Linked DNA regions of Homo sapiens. The protein of the gene in region 1 purifies or fractionates together with the protein of each later gene. This does not show direct contact. Each region holds a gene or a part of one and is shown in the gene's direction. Other genes may lie near its edges. The genes, in order: SHISAL1, TXNDC11, SLC25A15, SLC12A2, SCAMP1, ATP1A3 and ATP13A1.

Region 1 (4,350 bases):
TCTCTGTGTCTCTGTCTCTGTCTATGTCTGCCTCTGTCTTTTTCTATCTCTGTCTTTGTGTTTCTGTCTCTGTCTCTGTCTTTCTCTGACTCTGTCTTTCTGTCTCTGTCTCCATCTCTCTGTCTCTGTCTCTGTGTCTCTCTGTACCTCCTCATGCCCGCATGCTCTAACAGGGTCACTGACACTGGCCTGGTGGTTTTCAGCCCCTGCCCCTTTGCTGGGGGCAGCTCAGAGGGAGGCTATGAGGATGTCTGGGGGTGCTTGGCAGGGCTCCCCGGACAGCAAAGCCAAAGCCACGCCCAGGCCAGGGGTCTGGGGGCTACCCAGCTGCTCTCCCCACCCCAGATGCTTCCCATGCTTTGGCTCACCTGGTCCTCACCATCCCTGGAGGACGGACCCACTCAGCCCATTTTACAAATGAGGAAGGTGAGACACTCAGAAGGAAAGCGGCCTGCCCGAGGTCACCCCTTCAGGGGAGGGGCCAGCCAGTGAATCAGGGCCATCCAGATGCAGGAGTTACGTGGAGCTGTGCACACAGGGGTGCGTTCATGGTTGAGGCTTCGGGGCCCGAAATGCGGCTCTCTCCTTTGCGTCCCTGCTCTGCTGGGGCCTCCTAACAGAGTGTCCCTCGGCCTGGAGTCACGCCATGCCCCAGAGCAGAAGCCCACGGATGCTGCCCTTTACTGCCCTTTACAGCCTCTAGTGCTCGTAGGGCCCCTAGTGCACACACAGCCTCTTTCTCTAGGTGGGGGCTGCGCCTTGCTGTTTACAAAACGCTCCTGGGAGCCCCCAGCCCGCCTTGGAGACCATGAGTCTTTCATCAGTGAGGGGAGGAGGCCAGAGAGGTCACGATGGCCCAGGCAGCCTCATGCCAGGACTCCCACCCGGTTGTCCCGGCTCCCAGCCCAGGGCTCTGTTGGCTCCGGGAAGGCAGCCGGGGAGGCTTCATCGTTACCAAATGGCCAAAGCCCATGGCGCTGACCGCCCAGTGGTGGCCGGGTGAGCTGGGTGCTGGTAATGGGCAGGACCCTTCCACATCCCCCAACCTCGCCGGGCCTGCCCTCCCCGGCCCCCCATCTCTGCATATCAGGCTCCTCCCAGTCCCTTGAGGCCCAGCTCAAAGGCTGCCTCCCCATGCTGCCCTACCGCTCTGTCCCTTCCCTCCCTGAGTCCTGTGGTAGCCTCACGGGCTGGTCCCAGGGCCTAAGCTAGACTTTCTGCCCAGCAGCGTGAGTGTGCCTGGTTCCTCCCCAGCTGCCCACGCACTGAGCGTGAGCAGGGCCTCCTCACTGACCTGGGCAGTGACCCAGACAGTGACCGGAACTGGCTAGCTGCCTCTGCCCCTTGCCGCTAGGCCAGTGGGCCCCAAACCCAAGCCCATCAGCATCCCCTGGAGGGCTTGCCAGGACAGACGGCGGGGCCTACCCCGGAGCTTCTGATTCAGAAGCCCAGTGGCCTGAGAATCTGCATTTCTGACAAGCCCTCCGGGGATGCCCTCGAGGCCGATCAGGGGCCACACTTTGGGAACTGCTGCTCTGAGCCACAGTTTTCTCCCCTGTACGATGGGAATAAATGAGATGGGGTGAGACAGCTGTCTACTTGGGGCTCTCTAATAACCTCTACATCCCCAGAGGGGGTATTCTTCTTTCTTAAGGTTGAGGAAGAGAAGGGGGCCTGGAGAGCTCCCCTGGTTCCCCAAAAGCTGAGACCTTTCTCTCGCAGTGGTCATGCCCATCCCCACAGAAGAGGGTGCTGTCTGTGGGGGAAGGGGTGTGGAATTTCATGCCCCCCGCCGGAGGCAGCCTCAGCACCCCAGCACATGAAGGCCGCCTGCCCATCTTCCAGCCCAGCCCAGCCCAGCTGGGACTCCCCTGCAGCAGCCCCGGGTGGGTAGGTGGGGAGCTGTGTGGGCTGCAGTCTAATAACCTCTCAGCAGACACAGAGCTTTCAACGAGCTGGAGGAACTCCTGCAAAGCCACTGCCTTTGTGGTTAAAGGAATGTATTCAGCCAGCGAAGCCCCTTTTCAGTGATACAAATTAGATACAGCGATCTCTTTTATGAAGATACTAATTAAGCCTGAGAGAGCGGGCTTTAGGTTTTTTCCATTGTTATATTTGTTCAGACTTTCAGTCCTGTTTATCACCATCGGCACGACTCGTAAATACCATCCTGGGTTTGCAGTAGCATTGGTGGCTGAATAGGGGCCTCCGCCCCTGAGCAGAGTGGTGGGAGGGTTCCAGGCCAAGGCAGAGCTACCACCGTGAGGTGGGGGTGACTGAGGCAGGCCCTTGGGGACCTTGGGGCCTAGGGTACTAGTTTAGTAGAAACCAAGGAACGAAGGGTCTGCTGTTTTTGACCCAAGAGGTACCCAAGAGGTCCTTGCACCTATGCCAGCCACCACCCGGGCCAGCCTGGGCTGAGCAGCAGGTCCACCACTGCCCACCTGGGAACAAAGAGCTAGTGATACAAGACTGGAGAGGGCCCCAAACTTTGAATCCAGGCCTGAGTTCCATTCCTGTCCCTCCAACACTTATCAGCTCGGGCAAGTCACCTTAGGTCTCTGAGCCTCAGTTTCTCCATCTGTAAAGTGGGATCTCAGACTTGCTTGGCTGTGTGAGTTAAATGAGATGGGTCTGTGAAGCATACAGTAGGTGCTCAGTTAAGGCTGATTTCCTAATTGAGTGACTGCTGCATGTCAAGCATGTTCACCGAAGCAGGAGAGCCAGCCCTGCCCTCCAGGACCAGCCAGTCTGGGTGACACAGAGAATGTAACCAGGGCTGGGAGGCTCGGGGTAATGGGAACCCAGAGGTGAGGCTCACAGTGGACCACAAAGGCATCCAGGGGAGGGAAGAAGCAGGCAGGACCTGAGAAGAGGCCGGCCAGTCCCCCTGCCTCTTGGCACCCGTGGACTGGTGAGGGACCCCTCTGAGCCTGGTGACTCTGTCTTCCAGTCTTGTCTGCACATTTCCGGGTCTGTGAACCATACACAGACCACAAAGGCCGCTACCACTTTGGCTTCCACTGCCCCCGGCTCTCGGACAACAAGACCTTCATCCTCTGTTGTCACCATAACAACACGGTCTTCAAATACTGCTGCAACGAGACGGAGTTCCAGGCGGTGATGCAGGCGAACCTCACGGCCAGCTCCGAGGGTTACATGCACAAGTGAGTGCCACTCTGGGGGTGCAACCCCACTGCCTCGGGCCCCAGGCAAGGGGCCTGCCTCCCAAAATCGCGTCCCCTAGGGAGGCGGTTGGGTAACCGCTATAAGGTTGGGTGGGCCTGGAAGGAGTCTGGGAGAGTCTTTGGATGACCAGGGTTTTCGGCCCATTGTGCCTTCTAAGTTTCAGCTTTCTCATCTGAGAAATGGACACAGAGGCCAGGCGCGGTAGCTCACACCTGTAATCCTAGCACTTTGGGAGAATGAGGTGGGTGGATCACCTGAGGTCAGGAGTTCGAGACCAGCCTAGCCAACATGGTGAAACCCCATCTCTACTAAAAATACAAAAATTAGCAGGATGTGGTGGCAGGTGCCTGTAATCCCAGCTACTCAGGAGGCTGAGGCAGGAGAATCACTTGAACCCAGGAGGCAGAGGGTTGCAGTGAGCAGAGATGGCGCCATTGCACTCCAGCCTGGGTGACAAGAGTGAAACTCCGTCTCAAAAAAGAAAAGAAAAGAGGGAGGGAGGGAGGGAGGGACACAGAATACTCACTTTGCAGGGTTACCATAGAAGCTAAGTGAGGTTAAGGATGTGGAAAGCTTTCAGGCGTAGAAGGCGCCTGGGCCTGTAATCCACCGGGTTCCTTCATTCATTCTTCATTCATTTAACAAATACTGATTGACACCATTGACCCAGAGATTAATCCCATGCAGTTCTTTTCCTTAAGGTGATTAAAATACATTGGGATCAGGGCCTGATGGAGGGGACCACAGGTGTGGAGAAAGAGAGAGTTTGCTGTTAGAAAAGCAATGGGAACACGCTAAGTAGAGTCATGGAGTTTCAAAACAGCATGCGTTTCTCTATTATGAGTGAAGCTGGCCGTCTTTTCACATGCCTGAGAGACATTTGTATTTCTTTTACCGTGAGCTAGCTGTTTATGTCTTCTGTCATTTTTCTATTGAAGTTTTTGTTTTTTTCTTATTTACTTATGGGTGCTTTTTATATATGAAGGAAATATGATGAGTTGCAAACATCTTCCCATCTTCTCCTTGTTGAATGTTTCCATACAAATGTTTCCTCTGTGACTTTGACTTTATACTGCTTTTTCCTCATGCTTAATTTTTGTTATGTAATCACATTTTATCATTTTTTTTTTCTTTTATGGTTTCTGGCTTTTGCATCATACT
Region 2 (3,487 bases), on another chromosome or scaffold:
TTATCTGAGAAGGTTCTTTCAAGTTGGTGTTTCTTGGGCTGATCATCTGCCATTTCTGTTCTTTCCCTTTACCAGGATTGACGTGTCTCAGAATGACCTTCCTTGGGAATTTATGGTCGATCGTCTTCCTACTGTCTTGTTTTTTCCCTGCAACAGGTAATGCCAAATTTTTGTCACTGGTGGGCAGTTGGGATTCTTTTGTGGAGGTCTGAAAATGAAATGGGTTTAAGATGTAAATCATTCATTATGTTCAAAAAATGTTCCCTTAGGAACCAGGCGTGGTGGCTCATGCCTGTAATCCCAGCACTTTGGGAGGCTGAGGCAGGCAGATTGCTTGAGCTCAAGAGGTTGAGACCAGCCTGGCCGACATGGTGAAACCCCATCAGTACAAAAAATACAAAAATTAGCCAGGCATGGTGACATATGCTTGTAATCCCAGCTACTCTGAGGCTGAGGCACGAGAATCTCTTGAACCTGGGATGCGGAGGTTGCAGTGAGCCAAGATCACACCACTGCACTCCAACCTGGGTGACAGAGCGAGGCTCTGCCTCAAAAAAAAAAAAAAAAAAAAAGTGTCCTTAGGGACATAAAAGGGTTGTAGTGTCAGGATGTTATGTGTGGTATGGATCTTTTAAAGGTTGTTTTTCCCAGTCTATCTCTTACCCGAGCTTGAATGTGGCCGTGAGAATTCTTAGCTTTCATGGCCTGTATGAACATATGGAGGACGCAGAGACTGACAGGATTCTTCTGTTGCCCTGGCTGGAGTGCAGTGGTGCAATGTTTGTGTGGGGCAAAACAGCAGAGAATCTGTGGAGCCCTGCCTGCCCCAAGCCTTCCACTTGCTTGTCTCTCAGTTGGCCTCCCAGCAGCTCCTCATCCCTCTCGTACAGAGGACAGGGTGGCTTTCTTACCCATGGCACGTCCTTTTCTCGGATTCCAGGAGGCCTACAAAGGGGTTTTCTCCCATGCGTGCAGACTGCTGTGAACGTCCGCCATGGGATGGTCGCTTGATTTTTTCACACTTGCCTAATCAGTATTCCAGGTGCAGTTCTTAACGGCAACTACCCCGGAAGCCCCTGCAAGCAGGACATTAACAAGGGGGAGCGGACTTCCAGTTAGTAAACGTAGATGCAGATGTTTTAGTGGAAAAAGAAATTAACTCTTGGTCCTTTAGAGCCTAATACACTGGATGTTTGCTCCCTTTTTATAGATTCCCTTTGGTTTTTAGAAAGTTGAGTCCTTTTGGGGACCCACTCACATGACTTTGACAGTATCTTCTCTCCAGGGGAAAGTGTCTGCAGCATCATTTAGGGAGTTCCCTGGCTCGCATGTATGACGTTTGCTGTTTTAATTTCCTGCCTCCCTTTTGCGATTCAGCTTGTCATGTTTCTCTAGGAGAGTGTTTCCTTCATATCTATTGAATCATTCCCTTGGTTTTTGCTTTGTATCTCAAAGAATTTTTGCGGGAGTACTTCTGTGGTAGTAGGGTCTTGTCACATCATGCACTAAAAACAGAATGTGACTCACCCTTTTCTACTGCTGACTGAGTTGTGATGAGGCTTTTTCTTTCTAAGAAGTGTTTAAATTACCACATAGTCCAGGAATCACGGACAGTAACACTAACACTTTCATCTGTGTGGGCCAGGAGTTGGGCATGTAGTTTAATGACGTATAATTTTTGAATTCCAAGCATAGTTTGAAAAAATATGAAAATCTTAGCACCCAGCACATGCCTTTTAATGAAGAAGTTCTCAGCAGCTGGCAGAAATGCATCTGTGTAGAGAGACACAGGCGGAACAGGTGGCAGGGTGGGGCGTCATCTGGAGGCCTGCGTCTGGGCTGAGTGACCTTCGTTCTTAGGCTGCCTGGTGTGGGAAACGTGAAGATGTGCGCATTTCTCCGGCCCCATGCTGGGCACTTGCTGCAGGCCCTTACCCTTGTCGTTTCTAAATATCGAACATAAGAAGACTGTCCACTTCTCTTTTAATGTAAGGATGTTGGTAAACCAAAGCTTTATGGCTTTGGAATGGAATTTTTCTCATTTCCTAAAAATAAATGGTAGAAGTAAAGTATGCTCATCATGAGCTGGTCCCAAGCGAGTGTTTGGTTTAGCCAGAAGGTAAATGGGCAAGCAGCGTGAGCTGACAGCTTGCAAAAGAGGAAATGAAAAAGGCTGTTGGATAACATGTAGTAAGACCTTTTTCATTGTCCACCTGCTTATGCTATTTTTAGTGAAAAGAATATGAAATTGTATATTTACTGTGATAAAATATAAACTTGTGCATGTGCTAGGTGGAGATGTTCACAGAGGGGAAAATGTTGAGGTGTTAACATTGATGACTTCAGAGGAGTGAGATTGCAAGTGATTTGAAGGTGCTGCTTGTATGTTTTTACATCCCTTGCAAATTGTCTACAAAGAGCATGTCTTGATTTATAAAAATCATGAAGGAAAAAAATGCAAGAGCCTGTCCTTGGGAGGAAGAGGAAGGGGTGGGGCCTTGAGGGAGACATAGCCTTCCTGTGCAGAGGCATCTTGGAGCCACTTGCTCCACCGAGCAGGTGCTCCTCCAGCCAGCACTTGCGTCAGACTCTGTGTGACATTGCAAAATATAGGTGCTCTGGCCTGGCCCTGGGCCAGGGTGATGAGGGGGAGATGGGTGCTCCTGTCCACCAAGAGACTCTGATGTGTCCCAGGGGAAGAATCACAGTTTTTTAGAGGTGTGCCCTGCCACTCCCTCAGGGTTAGAGGAGAGTTGCATAGACATGGGGACCTCTTCCCACCATAGTTTCACATGACTGCTTTCCTGGAAGTAGACTGTTGACATTCTCTGTCCCTGCTACTTTCACAAAGTGTGGCAGTATTTTAGTGTGCCCATTAGGGACATTGATGGAGAGTGCACCAAGACCTCTTAGTTAGCAGATAGCATGCTCACGGATGTCACTGTCCTGTAAATGTCTGGAGGTAGACATCCTGAGGGATCTTGGCAGCTTTTTCTGGGAAGTAATTCACGTTTACTCTGCCTTACAAGACCAGGCTTGTGCCGCAGAACGTGGGGGCAGGTCCAGCGTCTGGTATTCTTCCATGGGCCCACTTGACAGGGCCACGATGTGTTTTCAGTTGTTGTGGGGTTTTTTGGTTTTCTGTTTTTGAGACAAGGTCTGACTCTGTTGCCCAGGCTGGAGTGCAGTGGTGCAATTACGGCTCACTGCAGTCTTGAACTCCTGGACTCAAGTGATCCTCCCACCTCAGGCTCCTAAGTAGCTGGATCTACAGGTGTGTGCCACCTTGCCTGGCTAATTTTTTTATCTTACTTTTTATACAGATGAGGCCTTACTATATTGTCCAGGCTGGTCTCAAACTCCTGGCCTCAAGCGATCCTCCCACCTCAGCCTCCCAAAGCACTGGGATTACAGGCACACAGCACCACACCCAGCTTTGTCATTTGAATGGCTGGGCCCCACTTGAAGAAAGCTTATATGTTAAGAA
Region 3 (4,025 bases), on another chromosome or scaffold:
AACATTAATCAATACTTTTATAAGCATAGCTACTCTTCAGTGATTAAATCACTCTCTAGCTCACTCTTGAAAACACATTCTCATTATCCTTTGAGAGTACTGTTTCATACACAATTTGATTTACTTGAATTGGAAAGCAATTTATTATCCTTATTAATTGCAAAACTTGCTTACTTATCTTGACATCTGGCTGAGTTCTGACCAAGGATATTGCTGTGGTTAACTCAAAGCCTATAAATCTGCTGGGAAAAAGCAGTAGATAAATTGACCATTTTCAAGGATCAGTCCCCACTCAGTGAGAATGGGGTTTGGAAAAGTGCCCTATTTTCTGCACCCTTGAGATTCATTACAGCCAACTTGAATCTAATATTCATTGCCTAGAAGTCCAAGAGTGTAAGTCTTTAAAACTTTTTATTGAAATAATACACATAGTATCATGAATGCACATTGAAGTCACAGTATGCAGCTCTATAAATAGTGACACAATTTATGTGCCTTTGTAACCTGTGTCCAGATTAACAAATAGAACATTAACAACACCCAGAAAGCTGCCCTCATGTTCCTTGGAAGTAATTCAAGGTAATTAAAAGATAGTAATAGTTATATCCAAAGGACTTAGGCAGATCAACACCTTGAATTATCAGTTGACTTTGTATTTGAGGTCTAGCAGTGTTCACACAAGGCATGGTATGGTAGCTTGGGGCTAAGACTCGGATTGGAAGGGAGGTTAATTGTGTTGAGCTGGATTACTTTGTTACATTCCATGTAGCAGTGCTGCAGGAAGGGCTGGCTGATGGGGAATACCTGACAGTGTCTTCTGAAGCTCTCAGAAGGAAAATAGTTTTTAAATGTCTGTGGCCTTTATTACCTTGGGACTTGATCCTTCATCTGTCCAAGCCAAGTCTCCTTCTTGCTGAGAACAAAGTGAGGAGAGAGGGATTCACTAAGTTGCACTGAGTATGTGATTTCTTGGCCTGTTCTTAGCAGGGATAAACCTGCCCTGGTTGCCCTCAATCATGAAGGGGAGTCAGACAAAGAGTGTCCTGTGTTCTGGCTGCTACAGGAGCAGGGCTGCTTAGAAGAAATTCTCCCGCATCCCTGGTGCTCTGAGAAATAAATTCTTGGTGCTTCTGCATAACAGGAGCTATATAACTTGTTCTCAGAATTTGTCTTGTCTTCAGACAACATTTACTCCTTCACTCATTTCTCTGCACTAAAAACAGATCCTGTAAACACCTGAACAAATTTCCCAAAAACACACCAGAAAGATTGAGGAAATAGGAATCACAGCGATAAGGGACTGGGCAATACAATGCCATTTTATGTTTGCTGAGTTTAGATAATTCCTTACTGTAAATAAATTTCCTTCCCACAGAAGGATGCCGTTGAGTCTTAATTCCTGGCTCTTCATTTACAAAATCAGCTTCTTCCTTACTAGTGCTTGATCAGATCTGTTAATTGGTTGCAAATGCCCTTGTCTTTTCTTCCTTCCCACCTGCTGTAACCGTGCTATCTCTCTGTGTCTCCTCCCAGTACAGTGTGGTCTGTCATCAAAAGTATTCTTAGGAAAGATGGCCCCTTGGGGTTCTACCATGGACTCTCAAGCACTTTACTTCGAGAAGTACCAGGCTATTTCTTCTTCTTCGGTGGCTATGAACTGAGCCGGTCCTTTTTTGCATCAGGGAGATCAAAAGATGAATTAGGTAAATGTGTTTGCATTGACAGCAGTGGGGTGTGATGGTGTTTGCTCCCTGCAGGTATGGTTTCTGTGGATTCTCTGCCCTTTGTGCTCTCCTCCCCACATTGGTGGCTCCATCTGGCACAGGGAAGCTTCTGGATGCCTGAAGGTAACATGGTGGCAGGCAGTTGATAGCACCCACCCTCCAGGCCTGATAATTTCCTTAGGACAGGGCCTGAAGCAGTACATCCCAAACTTTCTTACTGGAATAAAGTTTTTTAATTTTTCTGGATCTATTTTAGGGGAGAAGAAATCCAGAAATTACTTTCCCAATTGGGGAATCACCTATAAATAATCTTGAAATAAGGTTAAAACTTGGAAATCTTAATAGTGTTTTGAGAGCAGTGAAAACCATAGTTCTTTGTAGCTTATCGTGTTTAGCTGGTTGGTACAACTACATGCAATGTTTGGCTCACATAAGTGAGTTTTTCTTACCATCTCCCTCAGTGTGTGTTGAATCTATTCTGTGGTTAGTCAAGCTCCCAGACTTAATTGCTATGTTTAATAAAAACAATTTTGGCTTTTAATGATAAATGAAGAATCAGGGCTATTAAAATACTTAAGAGTGAGAAAGTTGAAAAAAGACATAGATTGTGTTTGGCCTGTCTTCTCCCCACTGTAGGGGGTTGCCACTCAGCTGGAGGCCTGCTGGTTCGTGTGGGCCAGCCCTTGACACCTCAGTGACCAAGCGAAATATAACCCTCACTAAGGCTTCTTGTACTTGGCAAGACCCAGGAGTAGACCTGGGCTACCAAACAAAACCCTGTGTTCTTAGAGCTTGGGAACAAGAGCTTTGACAGTTTTCCTCAAAGAATTGTATTCTGTAGCATTAGCATTTTTATTTTCATCTACCTGCAGCCATTACTACATTGACCTCTGGAAATGTCACATCAGCTGTTCTTGAGACAAAATACCATTTGCTATTTTTTTTTTCTCTAGGCCCTGTACCTTTGATGTTAAGTGGTGGAGTTGGTGGGATTTGCCTCTGGCTTGCGGTATACCCAGTGGATTGTATCAAATCCAGAATTCAAGTTCTTTCCATGTCTGGAAAACAGGCAGGATTTATCAGAACCTTTATAAATGTTGTGAAAAATGAAGGTGAGTAAATACCTGTTTTTCAAGCATCTATATACATCTTAAAATCTGAGATACGGGCCGGGCGTGGTGGCTCATGCCTGTGATCCCAGCACTTTGGGAGGCTGAGGCAGGTGGATCATGAGGTCAGGAGATCGAGACCATCCTGGCTAACACGGTGAAACCCCGTCTCTACTAAAAATACCAAAAAAATCAGCCAGGCGTGGTGGCAGGCACCTGTAGTCCCAGCTACTCGGGAGGCTGAGACAGGAGAATGGCGTCAACCTGGGAGGCGGAGCTTGCAGTGAGCTGAGATTGCACCACTGCACTCCAGCCTGGGCAACAGCGAGACTCTGTCTCAAAAAAAAAAAAAAAAAAAAAATCTGAGATATGAACTCTGTTTTGATTGTAAAAAGAAAGAGGACAGTAACACAGAAACTTTGTGTCCCAAATAGAGGACAGATACCTTGTCTGTTACTCATAGTAATCCTCCCTTACATTTGTATAACATGTAAAGTTTTACAAAGTACTTACACCTCCCTTATCTAATTCAATCTTCATAACCACCCTGGGCAGTACTAATACTATACACAGGTCTCCAACTTCAAGGTTGGTGTTCCTGCCACTGCCCAGGTGAAGCTGCAAAGCTGCTGCCACCTCTATCTCCATGGTTGCCTCTGTCTGGCCATCTCAGGCCTCAGCTCTGCCCCATCCATATACTAAGAGTTAACCAAGCGTGGAATTGGGGTATGTTACCTGAGCATCAGTCAGTTTTGCCAGGAGACCTGATACTTGTCCTTGTTTCCATTAGTCTATTTAGGAAAAGCTGGGAATGCATCCTTCTATGACTTGTTGGTTTTTAGCACTGTTGTCTGGGTTTGCATGTGTAAATATACCTATGCTATGCAGCTGCGTGGGTATCCCCAAAGGAGGGATTGTTGCAGTCTTTGACCGCCCTTTTATTTGCTAGGAATAACGGCCTTATATTCTGGACTGAAACCTACTATGATTCGAGCATTCCCTGCCAATGGAGCACTCTTTTTGGCCTACGAATATAGCAGGAAGTTGATGATGAACCAGTTGGAAGCATACTGAAGTGTCTTGGTGGGCCTGAGCCAAGCACAGGTGTTTGAGGACTACAGTTCATCTCAGGGTTTCTTGGAGTACAAGACCAGTGTGAAGTTATTCTGATTTCTTGGGAATTTTGCTTTTT
Region 4 (4,350 bases), on another chromosome or scaffold:
TGTTCTTTCCTTCCAATCCCATTGCTACTTGAATTTCCCTCCTGTATATTGTCATCTTCTTTCTGTACTTTTTCTTATTTTCCTGTAGCAATCACACACTCAACATTATGTTTGGACCATGTATAAAACTTGTGTTTGTGTCCAGCATGTTCTCCATGTCAAGATGGTAGTGTTAAGGTGGAAGAGACAGGAATGAATGATCTAGAATGAAAGCCTATATTGTTTTGGAATTTACAGTGCTTTATGGTTTGTGGGAAGGCATGCACATCTTTAACTCATTTCAGAAATATGGCATGATCTCACTTTTACTATCTTTTTTTTCCCCAGATATTTCTTTAAAGATCTCTTTGTTCATTAAACAAGGATTTATTGAGCAGCTGCTTGGCATATGGCATTGTTTAAGGCACTGGGGAATCAGGCAAAACAAGACAGAAATTCTTTCCCTCATGGAAGTTATATTCTAGGGGAATTGAATCAAGATATAGAAACAAGATACTTGATTTTAATTTTTAATGTTTAAAATTGCAGGCTCAGATTGTTCTTTTGGTGATCCTACTTCTTGCTATTGGTGATTTCGTCATAGGAACATTTATCCCACTGGAGAGCAAGAAGCCAAAAGGGTTTTTTGGTTATAAATGTAAGTAAAAAAGATTCAATATTTTTTAAGGGTACCTATTTATAGAATTCTATCATCAATTAAATTTTGTACATTTCAGATATTTTGTAACAGAATTGACTATGGTTTGGTGATTCACCCTAATTTACAATTTAGTTTTGTCCCCTTTATGCTGTACAGTTGGAGTAAAAATTACTTCTATTTACATCTTTTCTTTTTCATTATTAGCAACAAAAGGTGATAGAATATGGAGAAATCAGTGCTGCTAAGAAAAGGAGATTTTATTCTCTACTAGTTTTGGGAATTTGTAACTGAATTTCTAACTTTTGTTCTAATATGACTTTCATTCTTTTAACATATTTAAGCACAACAGTATAAAAGCGCCTAAGATTGTGAAAGCAATTATTGGTATAATTGCATTTTTCAAGAGTGCAGGCCATTTGATTTTTAGGAGATCTCTCCAGTTGGGTTTGTCTTATTTGTTTTTATAGATTCAGGTTATTTATGTTTGTCAGGAACGTAAGTGAACCGTGTCTCCTTCTCAGTCCAGCACATTTGGAGGGTGCATGATGCAGTTTTTTATATTACTTAGTGGTGTTAGTTTTGATGACTTAGTCAAGGTTATACCTGCACAGTTTCTCTATTGTGAAGTTGCTGTTTTTTTCTTTGCAGTTAGTAAGTGATCTGTGGAAGAATACTCTGAGACTGTTCATAGCCCTGTCAAACTTCTACCAAATGGCTTCATCCTTAACCCCTCTCACATCTGGCTTTTGTTGGTTAAAATATGTCAGATGGTGATAGATGCACTATGAATTTTTTGTCCTCTGCTTCATTTCTCTTAGTCATTCCTTCTCCTTCTTGAAACATGTCTATTTTATTCGATGTCAGATACCCTAGGTGCCTAACTCACTGGTCACTATGTCCATTACTCCTGTTACCCCCTTTAAATGCAGAATTTTACAACTATTATAGTGCTGACCTTCTAACTATACACTCTCCCTTGGGTGGTGTGTATTCTCATGGCTCAAAATGCTATTAAGGGACTGACATGTTTCTATTCCTGAATCTCTCCTTTAAAGTCCAAACATAAATATATATCCAACTGATTATTTGAAGTCTCTCCTACTTATTTCTTCTCAGGCTTTTCCATCTAAGCAAGTAGCTGAAACCAGGATCTTAGTGTTTCCCGTCCTACCTGCTCCTCTTAATTTCTAATCCTTTCCTAATCAGTGTATTTATTCTCCCATCTCTAGATTGAACCTCTGCAGCAACCTCCTAATGGGCCTCCCTGTTATCAGATGTTGAATCTTTCAGTCCATTGTCCACACAACATTAATAGTATATGTCATTTGCGTGTTTATGACCCTACTTTGGTTTTCCATTTTATTTAGGATAAATTTAACTTTTATAAAATATTCACACTCTGTTCCTCAGTGGTCACTCCAATTTCATTTAATTTTTCTCCTTACTATAAGAATTTTATCTTCTTTTATTTCCTCAGAAGAGTTAAACCTTTTTCTACTTTGGGGTCTTCATATATGTTGTTTCTCTTTTCTGGTATACTCTTTTTCCCTGATGATCACATGGCTGATTCTTGCTCAGCAAACTCTTAGCTTAAGTATTGTCTCCTTCCTTATATTTGCTTAGCCTTCTGTAACCACATTGAATTAGATTCTCTCTCTCTCTCATTTGTTATTCACAAATCCCTGTTTCCATCAGAACATTTACTGCTGTTTATAATTACCTGTTATTTTGGTCATTTGCTATTGAGACTCTTAAATTCCATGAAGGCAGGAACAATGTCTAACTTGTTTATATTGCATCTCCAAGTACTTTGAGGTGCTAGAAAGCTCTAGTACAGGACCTGACACATAGTAGCTGCTGAAGTATTGAATGGATAGATGGATACATTACAGTTAGTCGGTTATCTTAGAGTCAGAGATGAAAACACTAGGTCTAGTTGAAGCTTTTATTGTTGTTGAAATAGAAAGGAACTTTACTTAGGGTAGCTAATTGTCTGACAGCCTCAAAAATCAATAGGTGACTAGACAGCAGAGAAAGCTGTGGACCAAAATCTATACAGATAGTAAAGTAAGTTGGAAGCTATCAAAAAGTTGATTCTATATTATTATGATGTTGCTTTTGTTTTCCTTTTTTTTTTTTTTCTTGAGATGGGGTCTCACTCTGTCACCCAGGCTGGAGTGCAATGGCATGATCATGGGTCACTGGAGTGTCGACTGTCCAGGCTTAAATGATTCTCTCACCCCAGCCTCCCAAGTAGCTGGGACCACAGGCATGTGCCACCACTCCTGGCTAATTTTTTAATTATTTCTAGAGTCAAGGTCTTCCTTGTGTTGCCCAGGCTGGTCTCAAACTGCTGGGCTCAAGAAATCTGCCTGCTTCGGTCTCCCAACGTGCTGAAATTACAGGCGTGAGGCACCACGCCATGCCCCCTTTTGTTTTTCTACCTCCCTTCTTGCTTCTTTTACCTCAGAGATTGAGGGGATTATCCACATTTTGATTTGCATTTGGGCTAGTCATAACAATTCATTCAGAGGCTCTTGAAACATAATTAGCGAGGTATACAAAAAATGAGACATGAATCAGATCAGATGATCATTTTGATGGTAAACCATTGTCTCATACAAGAAAAGAACACCAAATACTTGAACTGGGAAATATGCAAAAATTTACTCGTTACTTTAACTGAAGAAAAGTTAGGGGTCATGTATACCTATTATTCTTGACCTCAGTTATTATAGTCTAATTTGCTCTCCATTAATTGTCAAGAATATTTTGTTCTCTGCAGCTGAAATATTTAATGAGAACTTTGGGCCCGATTTTCGAGAGGAAGAGACTTTCTTTTCTGTATTTGCCATCTTTTTTCCTGCTGCAACTGGTATTCTGGCTGGAGCAAATATCTCAGGTGATCTTGCAGTAAGTATTATAAAGTGCTATATCAATTATATATTTTAAAAGTGGAATTTGTATATTTATTTTTACAGATAGACTTTAAAAAATCTTCTTGTCTTCTAGGATCCTCAGTCAGCCATACCCAAAGGAACACTCCTAGCCATTTTAATTACTACATTGGTTTACGTAGGAATTGCAGTATCTGTAGGTAAATAGTTTCACATTTCTTTATGTGTCGCAGAAATTTCATGATGTACGTACTATAAATACTTATTTTTATGACATTTGCTAACTTTTTTAAATACAGAAATATTTCAATAAAAAGACATGGAGTTGCTCATTATAATTCAAAAACAGTTTTTAGAAAACTAGTAATGACTTCTATAGACATTATCTAAACCGCCAAATGCTTTATGGTATCTCCAGGATTTTTATTAATTATGGTAAATTAAAAAATTATATGAAATTGCATCTATAAACTCATTCCACTGAGATACTGAAAACAATGTATGTGTAGAAGCAAATGAATTTCACTCTTACAAATTTCTGTATTTTTTTAAGATGGTTATTTATTTTTTTTTTTTACAGTATATGAAGATTCTTTCAAGGCTATTAAGCAATGCTTGGCAATTTTTTACTATAAAAACACTGGTTTTGAAGATTAGGACATACTAAGTTTTACTTAGGAAAAGTTTTACTAAATTCTTAGTAAATTGAATGAAAGTGATTTCAAAACCATGTTATTACTTCATGGGATCATGGATCAACTTCATGGTTACTTCATGGGATCAACTTGAAAGGACTTAAGTGGTCAACCAGTC
Region 5 (3,992 bases), on another chromosome or scaffold:
TATCCATCTTATTTCATTTACCTTGACAATGATACTTACAAGTTGATTTCACTCCTCCCTTATCTGTTTAAAATTTTGAGGCTGAGCTTGATAGCTCATGCTTGTAATCCCAGTGCTTTGGGAAGCCAAGGCAGGAGGATTGCTTGAACCCAAGAGTTTGAGACCAGCCTGGGCAACATAGTGAGACTTCCATCTCTACTAAAATTTAAAAGTTAGCTGGGTGTGGTGGTGCACACCTGTAATCTAAGCTACTTGGGAGGCTGAGGCGGGAGGGTGACAGAGTGAGACCCTGTCTCAAAAAAAAAAAAAAAAACCCAAAAAACAAACAAAAAAAAGATATAAAATTTTGAGTTTGGAGATTGGATAGCACTAGGAAAGTATTCTGAGGATTTCCTTTGTGATTGTCACATTTTGAAAACTGTCTTTTAACATTAATCTGGAACATAGTGGTTGCAGTTTGTGGGCCTGTGTTATTTTACGTTCATGTCAACTGCATGAATTCCTGCTCATTTTTCCTCATGTTAATGTTTTTAAAAAGCACATATTGAGCTGCTGTTATATTTCATCAACTTAAGATGCCATCCTTTGTAAGATGCACCATTATCTTATTTACCACTGTCTCACTTATCTGTTGCTATGTAACAATCCCAAAATATAATGGCTTAAAATAACAATTATTTGCTCACGATTCTGTTAATTGCGCTAGACTTAGCTGGGCAGGTTTTTTCTTTTTTTTAATGTTCTTTTCTGGAGTCACTAAAGTGGCTTCAGTCACCTGGTTTATGGTTTCAGATATCCTTACTCAAGTGCCTGCTGGTTACCTGGAGATGTCAGTGGGCACAGCAATTAGCTGTCTTTCATGTAGCCTCTCTACTAGTAATAAATGGGCTTTGTGCATAGTAGCAGCAGTGCTCCCAGAGGGCAAGAGCTGAATCTACAAGGCTTCTTGAATCATATGCTACTTCTGCTGTATTCTGTTGGTCAAAACAAGGCACAAGTTCAGCCTAGATTTTAAAAGGAGTGGCAAGCAATAGGCTCCACTTCTTGACTGGAGACAGACCTATGATCTGAAGATACACCTAGTATAAAATGGCGAGGTAGTCGTAGGATAACTTCACTAGACACTCCCATTCAAATAGGGAAAGAGTGGGAGGCGTGTAGCACCTGCTGATGCATAGCAGTTCTGAAATCTAGCCAGGCACGTGTTGTTAGGGTCCCCTACATTGGGGACAATGAATGTTTCTTGATTAGGGCCCAGTTCTGCTACCTCGTATTGGTTCCTTCACCTGTTATTTTCTTCTGCTTTTGGCTCCACCCTCTGAGAGGTCCTTTATTTATTTTTTTCTATAAGAATGAGCCCTTTTGGCAGCTGAGTAGCATTTTTGGCCTGCTTCTTGCCCATTGAAAATTGGGAGCCCAGAAGTTTCTATTAATTTTGAACTGTTTCTTTAGTCCAGGCTGTCACAACTCTCTTAACAGTTTCTTTTTAATCTTACCAGAGTTCAAACCATGCCTTAAAAACCACATTTGTCATTCTTTTTGAGACAATCTTCATTTAGGGTGAAGTGTCCGTTGCCATGGTCGGTATTCTTCAGATGTTTAGAAAACTTTTGTCTAGGTTGAGCATCTCATATGGCCAGGGGAAGGCTGCTGCCATAGGAGGCTGCTGTGCCACGTGACAAAACTAAGATTTGAACACAGTTTTATTTTGGCCCTGTAGCTTTACAGTCATATGAGATGATGGTGATTATGAAAATTTCGAAAGTAAACTGTTCTTGTGCTGATATTACCAAAAGTTTTTTTTGGACTATGATTAATATTTAATAGTGATAAATGCAGATCCAAATAATTTATTGGTTATTTCCTTAATATGAACCACCAGTGTGATATAGTTGCTGAAAAATATATATTGGCTTAGTGAAATTAGTGATCAGTTCCTTAAAATTAATAATCCTATAGTATTCTGTTCTGGTCTAATAGCTGGGTATTCTTCTCAATTGCAAGTGCATATTTAAAGAGTGGTTTGAAAATACTAGGATATGCCCAAAGAGGACAGTCAGAATGGTCATGGGACTGGAATCAAGTTCTAGGAAGAACAATTTAAGTTTCAATTACTCAGTGGATTTAGTCTACAGAGGGCTAAAGGGAAATAGGAGAGCTCCCATCAGATACTTAAAGTGTTCTTAGGTAAGTGAATAAACTTGTTATTTGTTGCTTTAGAAAAAGAATCTAAGGTTAACTGGCAAAGTTTACTTGAAGGTAAAGGTAAATTTTGTCCAAACAGACTTTTAAAAATCTGCTACCATGGCCTGACAATGCTCTTTTGGTAGGGCATTCTCCAGCACTTGCAGAAATTCAAGCAGAAGTTGGATAACCTACAGAGATGCCTAATTTCAATATTGTAATGTCTCAGGGAATAGGGAGACCCAAGGAGAGGGACAGAGAATGGGAACAACTGGTTGGTGGAATAGTCAGGACACACAATTTTTTTTTTTTTTTTGAGACAGGGTCTCTCTCTGTCTCCAAGGCTGGAGTGCAGTGGCGTGATCTCGGCTCACTGCAACCTCCACCACGCAGGTTCAAGCGATTTTCCTGCCTTAGCCTCCCGAGTAGCTGGGACTATAGGCGTGCACCGCCACACCTGGTTACTTTTTGTATTTTTAGTAGAGACGGGGTTTCACCATGTTGGCCAGGCTGGTCTCCAACTCCTGACCTCAGGTGATCTGCCTGCCTTGGCCTCCCAAAGTGCTGGGATTACAAGCGTGAGTCATCGTGCCCGGCCAGGACACATAACATTTATCAAGTAAGTTTGCAGTGTTATGGGCATGGTTTGTGGCACCCCAAGACAATTACAGTAGTAACATCAAGTATCACTGATCACAGATCACCATAGCAGACATAATGATAATGAAAAAGTTTGCAATATTGCGAATACTACCGTAGTGTGACGCTAGAGATGTGAAGTGAGCACATGCTGTTGGGAAAATGGTGCTGCGAGACTTGCTTGATGCAGGGTTGCCACAAACCTTCAATTTATTTTTTTAAAAAAGGCAATATCTGTGAAGTACAGTGAAACTAGGTATTCCTGCATTTTCTCTGTTCTAATATATCGACCATATTGGATATTGGAATTAAGTATGATCAGTTCAGCTAGAGAGGATGCTTTATGTTCAGAGACCAGCTATGCTCTGAGCCTCAGCTTCTGCTGAGGGAGCAGCCCTCATGGTAGCTTACACATTTGTGATCATGTCCTCTAGGGTGTGACTTTTGCCACCCTGGCCTCAGCTGACTGATCTTAACAAAGGTACTTGTCCAAAGCAGTGGAATAGCAGTTATCTCACTAGGCTTTTGAAGGCCATTTTCAAGAATTCCTGTCCTTCATTAGAGGTGTTTTTTAACTAGAAGGGATGTGCCATGTCATGAAGAATTTCAATCTCTGTGAAACCTGGCGTTCTTCTTTCTGTATATATCTTTAAAATATTCTCCTGCTCCCAGCATTTGGGGTGACCTGAGTGAGTCTGTCTGTTTCAACCAGAATTGCTAAACCGTAAGTGTAAAGTAACATTTTCTTGCCAAAAGGGTGATAGAGTTAAGCCTGTATTTAGACCTACAGTTTTTGGTGGTGTAGTGGAGTAATATACTTGCAAATATTGTAAGATGTTTTTAAATCACAAGGGAGAATTTTCCAACTTTCAGTGGGTGTGGGATATAAAAGGTGACATGGAGTTTGGTTAGATTTAACCTTGTAACAAGTCTCTGAGTTGTTCCTACTGAGGCAGTCTGTAATGTCCTGCAGCGTTTGACTTCATATGTGTAGACTGGTGTGGAAAACCCTGTTCTCCTTTCTGTGCAGAAGGCTTGCAGATCTATACCCAGAGAGCAATCCAGTAATCCCCTTCTCCTTGGCATTTGGCTTTGGGTGCTTTTCAGAATTAGTAATGTTTCTTTATCCATTGCTGGACACCTAAGTTGTTTCTGTTTTTTGTCTATTA
Region 6 (4,350 bases), on another chromosome or scaffold:
AAGAGAATTCAAACGGCAAAGCCGAGCCCAGAGTAACAGATTAAATGTCCTCAGCCCTTGTCTCCTATATCCCAGAGGAAACCATGGTTAACACCTTCTTATCTCCCAAGAGACATCTTTTTTTGGGGGCTGGGGGCGGGGATAGAGTCTCAATCTGTCACCCAGGATGGAGTGCAGTGGCACAATCACGGCTAACTGCAGCCTCCACCTCCGGGACTTAATCGATCCTCCTGCCTCAGGCCCCTAAGTAGCTGAGACTACAGGTATGCACCATCACACCTGGCTGATTTTTAAGATTTTGTAGAGATGGGGTTTCGCCATGTTGCCCAGACTAGTCTTTCTTTTTTTTTGAGACAGAGTCTTGCTCTGTCACCCAGGCTGGAGTACAGGCATGCAATCTCGGCTTACTGTAGCCTCCACCTCCTGGGTTCAAGCAATTCTCCTGCTTCAGCCTCCCGAGTAGCTAGAATTACAGGTGCATGCCACCACACCAGGCTAATTTTTGTATTTTTAGTAGAGATGGGGTTTCACCATGTTAGCCAGGCTGGTCTTGATCTCCTGACCTGAAGTGATCCCCGCACCTTGGCCTCCCAAAGTGCTGGGATTGCAGGGGTGAGCCACCTCGCCCAGCGAGGTCTTCAACTCCTGGGCTCAAGCAATCCTCCCACCTTGGCCTCCCAATTTGCTGGGATTACAGGCATGAGCCACCACGCCTGGCCTCCCCAAGACATCTATGCATACACAGTACACACACTGTCTCAGATACAGCCGTCTGCTCCTTCCGAATCTTGTGCATCATGCTGGAAGCCTGGGAGGCAGCTGTGAGCAGAGCAGACACCATCCCTGTTCTCACAGGGCTGGAGAGACAGCCTTAAACAAGTTAACAGATATGTAATTACAAATTGTGATATATGCCCCGAAGAAAGCAGGCCGCTGTGATAGATAATAGTGAGGGTCCTGCCCAGATGGGGTGGACAGGGAAGGCCTCTCTGAAGTGAGGGAAGAAATACCTAACTTCCGTCAGGGGCCAGGCACGGGGGCTCACGCCTGTAATCCCAGCACTTTGGGAGACCAAGGCGGGAGGATCGCTTGAGCCCAGGAGTTCAAGACCTGCCTGTACAACAAATTAAGACCTCAAAGATCAAAAAATTTTAAAAATTAGCAGGGCGTGGTGTTGCACACCTGTAGTCTCAGAGACTTGGGGGGCTGAGGCAGGAGGATCACTTGAGCCTGGGTGGTCGAGGCTGCCATGAACCATGATGGTGCCACTGCACTCCAGCCTGGGATAGAGCGAGATCCGAGACCCTGTCTCAAACAAACAAACAAAATAACTTCCAACGGGGGCATTCCAGATATACCCAAAAGTAAAGCAAAGGCACAGTGGGCCCCTGCGCCTCCATCCCACCTGCAGCGGCAGTCAGCGCACGGCACACCTTGTTTCTTCCCCACCACCTGGAACACACACTGGATTATGCTGATGCACATTTGTCACCATTTCATCCATAAATAGTTTAGGATGAGAAACCCCTAGTTTGTGGAGAAGAGCACAATGCAGGGAACGAGAATATCAGGTGGGAGCGGCCCAGGCCCTTATTGCTATGCAAGAGACATCAAAGCAATCAAAGAAGCCACACCACAGGCAGCCTGCTTCACCTTCCCTTCCCTCCCTCCCTCCCTTCCTCCCTCCCTCCGTCCCTGCCTGCCTGCCTTCCTTCCTTCTTTCCTTCCTTCCTTCCTTCCTTCCTTCCTTCCTTCCTTCCTTCCTTCCTTCCTTCCCCTTCCTTCCTTCCTTCCCCCTCCCCTCCCCTCCCCTTTTTTTGATGGAGTCTTGCTCTGTTGCCAGGCTGGAGTGCAGTGGCGTGATGTTGGCTCACTGCAACCTCCACCTCCCAGCTTCAAGCGATTCTTCTGCCTCAGCTTCCCACATAGCTGGAACTACAGGCACACACCACCACTCCCAGCTAATTTTTTGTGTTTTAGTAGAGATGGGGTTTCACCATGTTGGCCAGGATAGTCTCGATCTCCTGACCTCGTGATCCACCCGCCTCAGCCTCCCAAAGTGCTGGGATTACAGGTGTTTGCCACCGTGCCCGCCTGTTCTTTCTTAATGATTGACCTCATTGTTCATGGGCTAATCTTTTTACTTATTTATTTATTTAGAGACAAGGTCTCACTCTGTTGCCCAGGCTGGAGCGCAGTGCTGCAATCATCAGTCACTGCAACCTCGACCTCCTCAAGTGATCCTCCCACCTCAGCCTCCCAAGTAGCTGCGACCACAGGCTCGAGCCACCGTGCCTGACTAATGTTTATTTTATTTTATTTTATTTTTTTGAGATGGAGTCTTGCTCTGTTGCCCAGGCTGGAGTGCAATGGCACAATTGCGGCTCACTGCAACGTCTGCCTCTGAGGTTCAAATGATTCTCCTGCCTCAGCCTCCCAAGTAGCTGGGGTTACAGGTGCCCACCACCACGCCCAGCTAATTTTTGTATTTTTAGTAGAGATGGGGTTTCATCATGTTGGCCAGGCTGGTCTTGAACTCTTGATCTCAGGCAATCCTCCTGCTTCGGTCTCCCAAAGTGTTGGGATTACAGGTGTGAGCCCCAGCGCCTGGCCTGGATTAATCTTTATTTTGTTTACTTTAGACAACCTGTACTGGTTGAATATTTATTGAGATATGGCATGCATACAGTGAGTTGGGCATATTATATCTCATTAAAATATTCAACCAGACAGGGTGTATAAATTTTTACACATGTACACAGCCATGCAACCACCAGACCCCAGTCAAGATAGAAAACCATTCCAGCCCCCCATTTAGGTTTTGTCTGCTCTCTTCCAGTCTATATCCCTCCTCCTAGACATAACCATTATCCTGACTTTTAGCCCAGAGACGGGTGCTGAGCCTGCTCCAGTTGGAGTTGGATGCTAAGAATGCTTTTGTGTCTGGCTCGTGTCACTCAGCACGGGATCCAAGGTCCAGCTGTGGAGTTGTGTCCGTAGCTCGCCCCTTCTTGCTGTGTAGTATTTGACTGCATGGATGTACCGTGGTTTATTCATCCCTCACCTGTTGATGGACATGGGGTTGACTCTGGCTTTTGGCTCTGATGAGTGGTGCTATGGTGAACATTCTCGTACTTGCTTTTCGCTGGGCATAAACAGTCCTCCTCTCTTTTGGGTATAAAACCTAGGAGTCGGATTACTCGGTCGGTGGGGTGGGGGATGTTTGATAGCAACTCCGAAACCATCTTCCAAAGTGGTTATTTCAAGAATGTTTCCACAAAGGCGATGTGGTTGGATGTTTATGTGGAAAGGTAGGTGGGTGAGGGGCCAGGTGTGGAGACTTATGCCTGTAATCCCAGCACTTCGGGAGGCTGAGATGGAATCACAGCCCAGAAATTAGACAAGCCTAGGAAAAGTGGTGAGACTCTGTCTCTACTAAAAATACAAAAATTAGCTGGACGTGGTGGCGCGTGACTGTAGTCTCAGCTACATGGGAGGCTGAGGCAGGAGGATCACTTGAGCCTGGGAGTCGAGGTTGCAGTGAGCCGTGATCATGCCACTGCACTGCAGCCTGGGCAACAGAGTGAGACCCTGTCCCAAAAAGAAAATAATGGTGGGTGGGCTGGGGGGTAGAAAAGGACGCTGGACAGGCCGGGCGCGGTGGCTCACGCCTGTAATCCCAGCACTTCAGGAGGCCGAGGAGGGCAGATCACGAGGTCAGGAGATTGAGACCATGCAGGCTAACACAGTGAAACCCCGTCTCTAATAAAAATACAAAAAAATTAGCCGGGCGTGGTGGCAGGTGCCTGTAGTGCCAGCTACTCGGGAGGCTGAGGCAGGAGAATGGCGTGAACCCGGGAGGCGGAGCCTGCAGTGAGCCGAGATCGCACCACTGCACTCCAGCCTGGGCAACACAGCGAGACTCTGTCTCAAAAAAAAAAAAAAAAAAAAAAAGGACGTTGGATGAGGGCAGAGGAGGGGCAGAGGGAGTGGGGCTCCCTGGCATGGGCGCCTGCTCTGAGCCTGCCTGTGCCACAGGCCGCCTGATCTTCGACAACCTAAAGAAGTCCATTGCCTACACCCTGACCAGCAATATCCCGGAGATCACGCCCTTCCTGCTGTTCATCATGGCCAACATCCCGCTGCCCCTGGGCACCATCACCATCCTCTGCATCGATCTGGGCACTGACATGGTGAGCCCTGGCAGCCACCCTTGGGGCCCAGGAGGGTGGAGTCCTCCCCTCTCCGGCTCACCCGGCCTCCTCCGCCTAGGTCCCTGCCATCTCACTGGCGTACGAGGCTGCCGAAAGCGACATCATGAAGAGACAGCCCAGGAACCCGCGGACGGAC
Region 7 (4,350 bases), on another chromosome or scaffold:
CCCCTCAGGACTCGTACTTATTTGTTTCCAGATGAGAAAGTATTCCCCCGAAGTATTAAAACTCAGGGGCTGAAAATTCACCAGCGCTTTCATTTTGCCAGTGCCCTGAAGCGAATGTCCGTGCTTGCCTCGTATGAGAAGCTGGGCTCCACCGACCTCTGCTACATCGCGGCCGTGAAGGGGGCCCCCGAAACTCTGCACTCCATGGTGAGCTGGCCCCAGCCTGGGGCAAGGGGTGGGGGCGCGGGGCAGCCCGTGACATCCCCCTGCATTCCCTGCAGTTCTCCCAGTGCCCGCCCGACTACCACCACATCCACACCGAGATCTCCCGGGAAGGAGCCCGCGTCCTGGCGCTGGGGTACAAGGAGCTGGGACACCTCACTCACCAGCAGGTACGGGCCCAGGCTCCCCCTGCCTTCACCATGTGCCTGGCCCGTCAGCTCCTCCCTGAGTCACCTCCTGTGTCCCACAGTGCCAGGTTGAATGGTTGTGATTTTGTCCTCCTTGCCCCGCCTCCAGCTTCTACCTTTGGAGACTCCAAATGGCACTCAGTCTGTCCACTGCTGTGGGGACCCACCCAGTCCTGGCTCACGCAGAGCACACGCAGGGCTTACCTGCCCCAGTCCTGGTGTGTCCCTAGCTCTACTCTTTTGCCCTGGTCTTGGGCAGGGCTAGGTGGCATCCTCAGCCCTCTCACCCATCCATCCTCCACAAAGCCCACCCTCCGCCTCCACCACCGGCACATCTGCCGCTTGGCTTCTTCCTGGGCTCTCGTTCTTTCTGCTTGCACCCTACAGCTGCGGATCCTTCCAGAATTTAGCCTCAGGTTGCAGTACTGTGTGCAGAGCCCAGGCCACAGCTCACAGCCTGCATGCTCTGCCCCGTTCCTGCACCTGGAGCCCCCTTCCCAGTGACACAGGTCCTCATCGCCTTCATAGTGGCCACTTCTGAGGCCTTTCCACCCTCTCTGGATTCCATTCTCACCTCCTCTCTCATGGCACTCAGCACTCCGATTTCTGTGACTTTCTTGATCATGCGTCTCCCCTGGTGCAGTGTGAGCTCCCTAAGGCCAGGGGTCTGTGCCCAGTCTGTGGTATGTGGTGGAGCCCCAGTGAGTAAGAGTTCCTGGCTAAACTCCAACATTATTGGGAGAGTCCCTACTTCATTGACTTGGAAGCTGAGCCACAAGGGACTCTGTGATGTGCCCATGTCCGCAAGCAGGACATAGAGCCACATTCGGGGGACCCAGACCCCCCAGTCACTGCCAGATCCCACCCCTCAAGCGTGCCTGGTACCCTCCTGGCATTTCTCCCCTCCCAACCCTCGCATGTGCCCACTACGGGAACAGGGCCTTCCATTGTCCCCTTGGCTCCCAGCGCATGGTCAGAGCTCAGGAAATGCAGAGTGTGGGCAGAGGGAGGGACAGATGGTGAGGGTGCCCCTGTCTGTCCGCAGGCCCGGGAGGTCAAGCGGGAGGCCCTGGAGTGCAGCCTCAAGTTCGTCGGCTTCATTGTGGTCTCCTGCCCGCTCAAGGCTGACTCCAAGGCCGTGATCCGGGAGATCCAGAATGCGTCCCACCGGGTATGGGACGGTGCTCGGCTCCACCCTCTGCATGGGAAATAGAGGCGAGGAGATGACAATTACAGCTTCGTGGTAGGGGTGGGCACCCAAGTCTCACAGGCTGCATGTTTTAGCTGAGCAAGATCATAGCTCAGGTGCTAACATTGCCACTGGCCCAAGGACACTCTGGGACCCGCCTGTGCTGGCTCCTCTCTCCTCCACAGACCACTCCCTTCACTCCCCGCATCATGGGAAGATGGGGGCACTTCTCTCCACTTCCCCGTTCCACCGCCGTCCTGGAGAGAAGGAAGCTGAGGCTGGGGAGTTGGGTGGGGGGCACTGTCTGCCTGTCCTGGTGGCTTCTGGTGGCTTGTGTTTTCTATTTTGGGACTTAGGGTGTCTTTTAGGGTGTAAGGGGTGAGTGAGCCGTCTCAGAGGATGATGGCTCTGGGTCACATGGGTGATGTGATTAGTCCCCACCAAGCCCAGAGGTCATGGTCCCATCCTCCTCTTTGCTGAAATATTACCCCCATGGGCAGCTACCAAGCCAAAAGGGTCCACCTCAGGGGCAGGTTGTTCATTTGTATTGCAAATCCAAGCTAAGGGTGTCTTCAGAAGGACGCACATACACGTGTCATTTGTGTAAAATGACCTGGGTGGGGGTGGGTTGTGGCCCTTGGAAGCCCATTCAGCATCTCGGTTAGAGGCCCAGGATCTCCCACTGTGGCCTACCTTAGAAGGAGACTTGGCAGCCTTGTCTCTGGCCTAGAGCTTGGCCCCAGGGTGCCATGCTGAGCCTCTGCCCCTCTTTACCCAAGGTGGTCATGATCACGGGAGACAACCCGCTCACTGCATGCCACGTGGCCCAGGAGCTGCACTTCATTGAAAAGGCCCACACGCTGATCCTGCAGCCTCCCTCCGAGAAAGGTGAGGCCCTAGCCTGGCCCACAGTGGGGAAGGGGGACCCTGAGTCCAAGAACAGCTCCCATCGCAACAGCCCACCTGTGTACCAGGCCTCAGCAGCACAGTGTCTTCAAATGCCTGGCACCACTAATCACAGCCCTGGCCCACTGGGCACCTCGGACAGCATGTGAGCGTTCACTGGGTCGCAGGTCCCAGGATGTGCGGCATGTAGGTGTTTATTTACCATAATGAGGCGATAGTCTGACTGCCAGCTCGGGTTTCCTGTGCACTCATGGGCAGATACTGCTCCTACCACGCTTACTCCCCATCCTCAGTGTCATCCTCATTTCACACCCTCTTTGGCCCGGCAAGCTGCCCATGTACCGAGTGCTCCCTTCCCGAGCACAGGGACTGCTGGCATCCTCAGCCACAGTTGATGGCAGTTTGCCCAGTGCTCAGCCTGACCAGACCCCAGGCGGAGCGCTCCGTGCGTGTTACTGCGTTGGTCCCTCCACCCCATCCTGCACCACACGGGGTGGCTTGCCTTCCCCACACCACAGAGGAGGAAGCTGGCTGGGTCAGCTCTCGGGGCCCTGCTTTGTAGAGAAGGGACAGAGGCTCAGAAGTGAACCCACTTGCCCAGGTCACTTCCAATCCATGGCTAAGGATTGGAATCCAGACAGCCTGATTCCAGAGCTCAAGGCTCCAACCTCTCCCCAGTGACCTCTTTGAGCAATGCCCTGGATTCAGATTGATGAAGAGGCAGACATAGAGACCCAGCCCCTCCCAGCTAGAGGTGTGGGGCTTACCAGATACCTGCCCCAGAGCTAGAGGTGAAGCCCCTGTGGGCGCACGCAGTTCAGGACCTGCATGAGTGTTGACAGGGCCCTAAGAAGAACCACATGGAGCAGTGTTGCCACAGGGCTGCTGGCAGCAAACATTCACAGGTCTGGGCCAGAGCAGCTTCCGGAACCTCCAGGCCACCTCTCAGAGGACTCGGTCCCTGCCCTCCCTCTGTTCTATTGGTCGCAGGCCTCCCCCTGTCCCAGCCCCAGCTACCGGGGTCTTCCAGGGCCTGGGGATTGTGGGCAGGTGGCATGGAGCGGATGAGCAGAACTGTTGATTGACAAGCGAAGCTGGTCTAGCAACAGCTGCAGCACAAGCCAGGTGGAAGTGTGCTGCCCTTCAGCTTGAGATGGTCCAGGGTGAGCAGGCAGTGCCAGGAGGGCTGGCGGGCCGCCCTTGGCCATCCTCAGCGCCCAGCATCCAAGCCAGGGCCAGCCAGCAAGAAAGGGGAAGTGGAGCAAGAAGATGTTGAGAACTCAGGGGCCCTGTCAGAGTTGGGAGGGGGCCCAGCCCCGAGAAAACAGGATTTCAGAGAGGCCACGGGCGCAGGGATAAATGAGGTGAGGGCCTGGTGTGGGGTTTCCCAAGGAGAGCGCAATAGCCCCCTTCTGTGTGTTTCAGGTTAGGGGGCCTTGCATGAGGTGGGGGCATGGCTTAGCTGGGGTCAGACTGCCCAGGTTCTAATCTGGCTGTGTCCCGGGCTCTCAGGCAAGTAGCTCAGGCCCCAGGCTCTTGGTTCCACCCTGTGCACCTGAGGGACATTCTTTGTGGAGTCCCCAGAGAAGGGCTGGGGGTCACCTGGGTGGGTAGGGAGGTGCGGGCTCCAGAGAGGAGAGACTGGCTGGTGCTGGGGTCCGAGTGGAGGGAGGGTGCTTCTGAGCCCGGTCAGCCAAGCCCCCAGCCCTAACCCTAGGTGCTGCCCGCAGGCCGGCAGTGCGAGTGGCGCTCCATTGACGGCAGCATCGTGCTGCCCCTGGCCCGGGGCTCCCCAAAGGCACTGGCCCTGGAGTACGCACTGTGCCTCACAGGCGACGGCTTGGC

What was found.
Region 2: the proteins of SHISAL1 (region 1) and TXNDC11 purify together in Homo sapiens (affinity purification with mass spectrometry; one large-scale study listed by BioGRID and IntAct). This does not show direct contact.
Region 3: the proteins of SHISAL1 (region 1) and SLC25A15 purify together in Homo sapiens (affinity purification with mass spectrometry; one large-scale study listed by BioGRID and IntAct). This does not show direct contact.
Region 4: the proteins of SHISAL1 (region 1) and SLC12A2 purify together in Homo sapiens (affinity purification with mass spectrometry; one large-scale study listed by BioGRID and IntAct). This does not show direct contact.
Region 5: the proteins of SHISAL1 (region 1) and SCAMP1 purify together in Homo sapiens (affinity purification with mass spectrometry; one large-scale study listed by BioGRID and IntAct). This does not show direct contact.
Region 6: the proteins of SHISAL1 (region 1) and ATP1A3 purify together in Homo sapiens (affinity purification with mass spectrometry; one large-scale study listed by BioGRID and IntAct). This does not show direct contact.
Region 7: the proteins of SHISAL1 (region 1) and ATP13A1 purify together in Homo sapiens (affinity purification with mass spectrometry; one large-scale study listed by BioGRID and IntAct). This does not show direct contact.

Annotation. Positions count from the first base shown.
Region 1 is NC_000022.11:44,295,489-44,299,838, reverse strand, and holds part of SHISAL1 (protein shisa-like-1 precursor), read left to right. Parts: intron 1-2,953; coding exon 2,954-3,167; intron 3,168-4,350.
Region 2 is NC_000016.10:11,680,834-11,684,320, reverse strand, and holds part of TXNDC11 (thioredoxin domain-containing protein 11), read left to right. Parts: intron 1-75; coding exon 76-156; intron 157-3,487. UniProt on the Homo sapiens protein: May act as a redox regulator involved in DUOX proteins folding. The interaction with DUOX1 and DUOX2 suggest that it belongs to a multiprotein complex constituting the thyroid H(2)O(2) generating system.
Region 3 is NC_000013.11:40,805,761-40,809,785, forward strand, and holds part of SLC25A15 (mitochondrial ornithine transporter 1), read left to right. Parts: intron 1-1,533; coding exon 1,534-1,703; intron 1,704-2,677; coding exon 2,678-2,836; intron 2,837-3,782; coding exon 3,783-3,907; 3' UTR 3,908-4,025.
Region 4 is NC_000005.10:128,135,172-128,139,521, forward strand, and holds part of SLC12A2 (solute carrier family 12 member 2), read left to right. Parts: intron 1-528; coding exon 529-637; intron 638-3,425; coding exon 3,426-3,553; intron 3,554-3,652; coding exon 3,653-3,737; intron 3,738-4,350. UniProt on the Homo sapiens protein: Cation-chloride cotransporter which mediates the electroneutral transport of chloride, potassium and/or sodium ions across the membrane. Plays a vital role in the regulation of ionic balance and cell volume.
Region 5 is NC_000005.10:78,366,625-78,370,616, forward strand, and holds part of SCAMP1 (secretory carrier-associated membrane protein 1), read left to right. Parts: intron 1-3,992. UniProt on the Homo sapiens protein: Functions in post-Golgi recycling pathways. Acts as a recycling carrier to the cell surface.
Region 6 is NC_000019.10:41,970,231-41,974,580, reverse strand, and holds part of ATP1A3 (sodium/potassium-transporting ATPase subunit alpha-3), read left to right. Parts: intron 1-4,038; coding exon 4,039-4,193; intron 4,194-4,272; coding exon 4,273-4,350. UniProt on the Homo sapiens protein: This is the catalytic component of the active enzyme, which catalyzes the hydrolysis of ATP coupled with the exchange of sodium and potassium ions across the plasma membrane.
Region 7 is NC_000019.10:19,649,826-19,654,175, reverse strand, and holds part of ATP13A1 (endoplasmic reticulum transmembrane helix translocase), read left to right. Parts: intron 1-31; coding exon 32-207; intron 208-281; coding exon 282-392; intron 393-1,455; coding exon 1,456-1,581; intron 1,582-2,378; coding exon 2,379-2,487; intron 2,488-4,235; coding exon 4,236-4,350. UniProt on the Homo sapiens protein: Endoplasmic reticulum translocase required to remove mitochondrial transmembrane proteins mistargeted to the endoplasmic reticulum.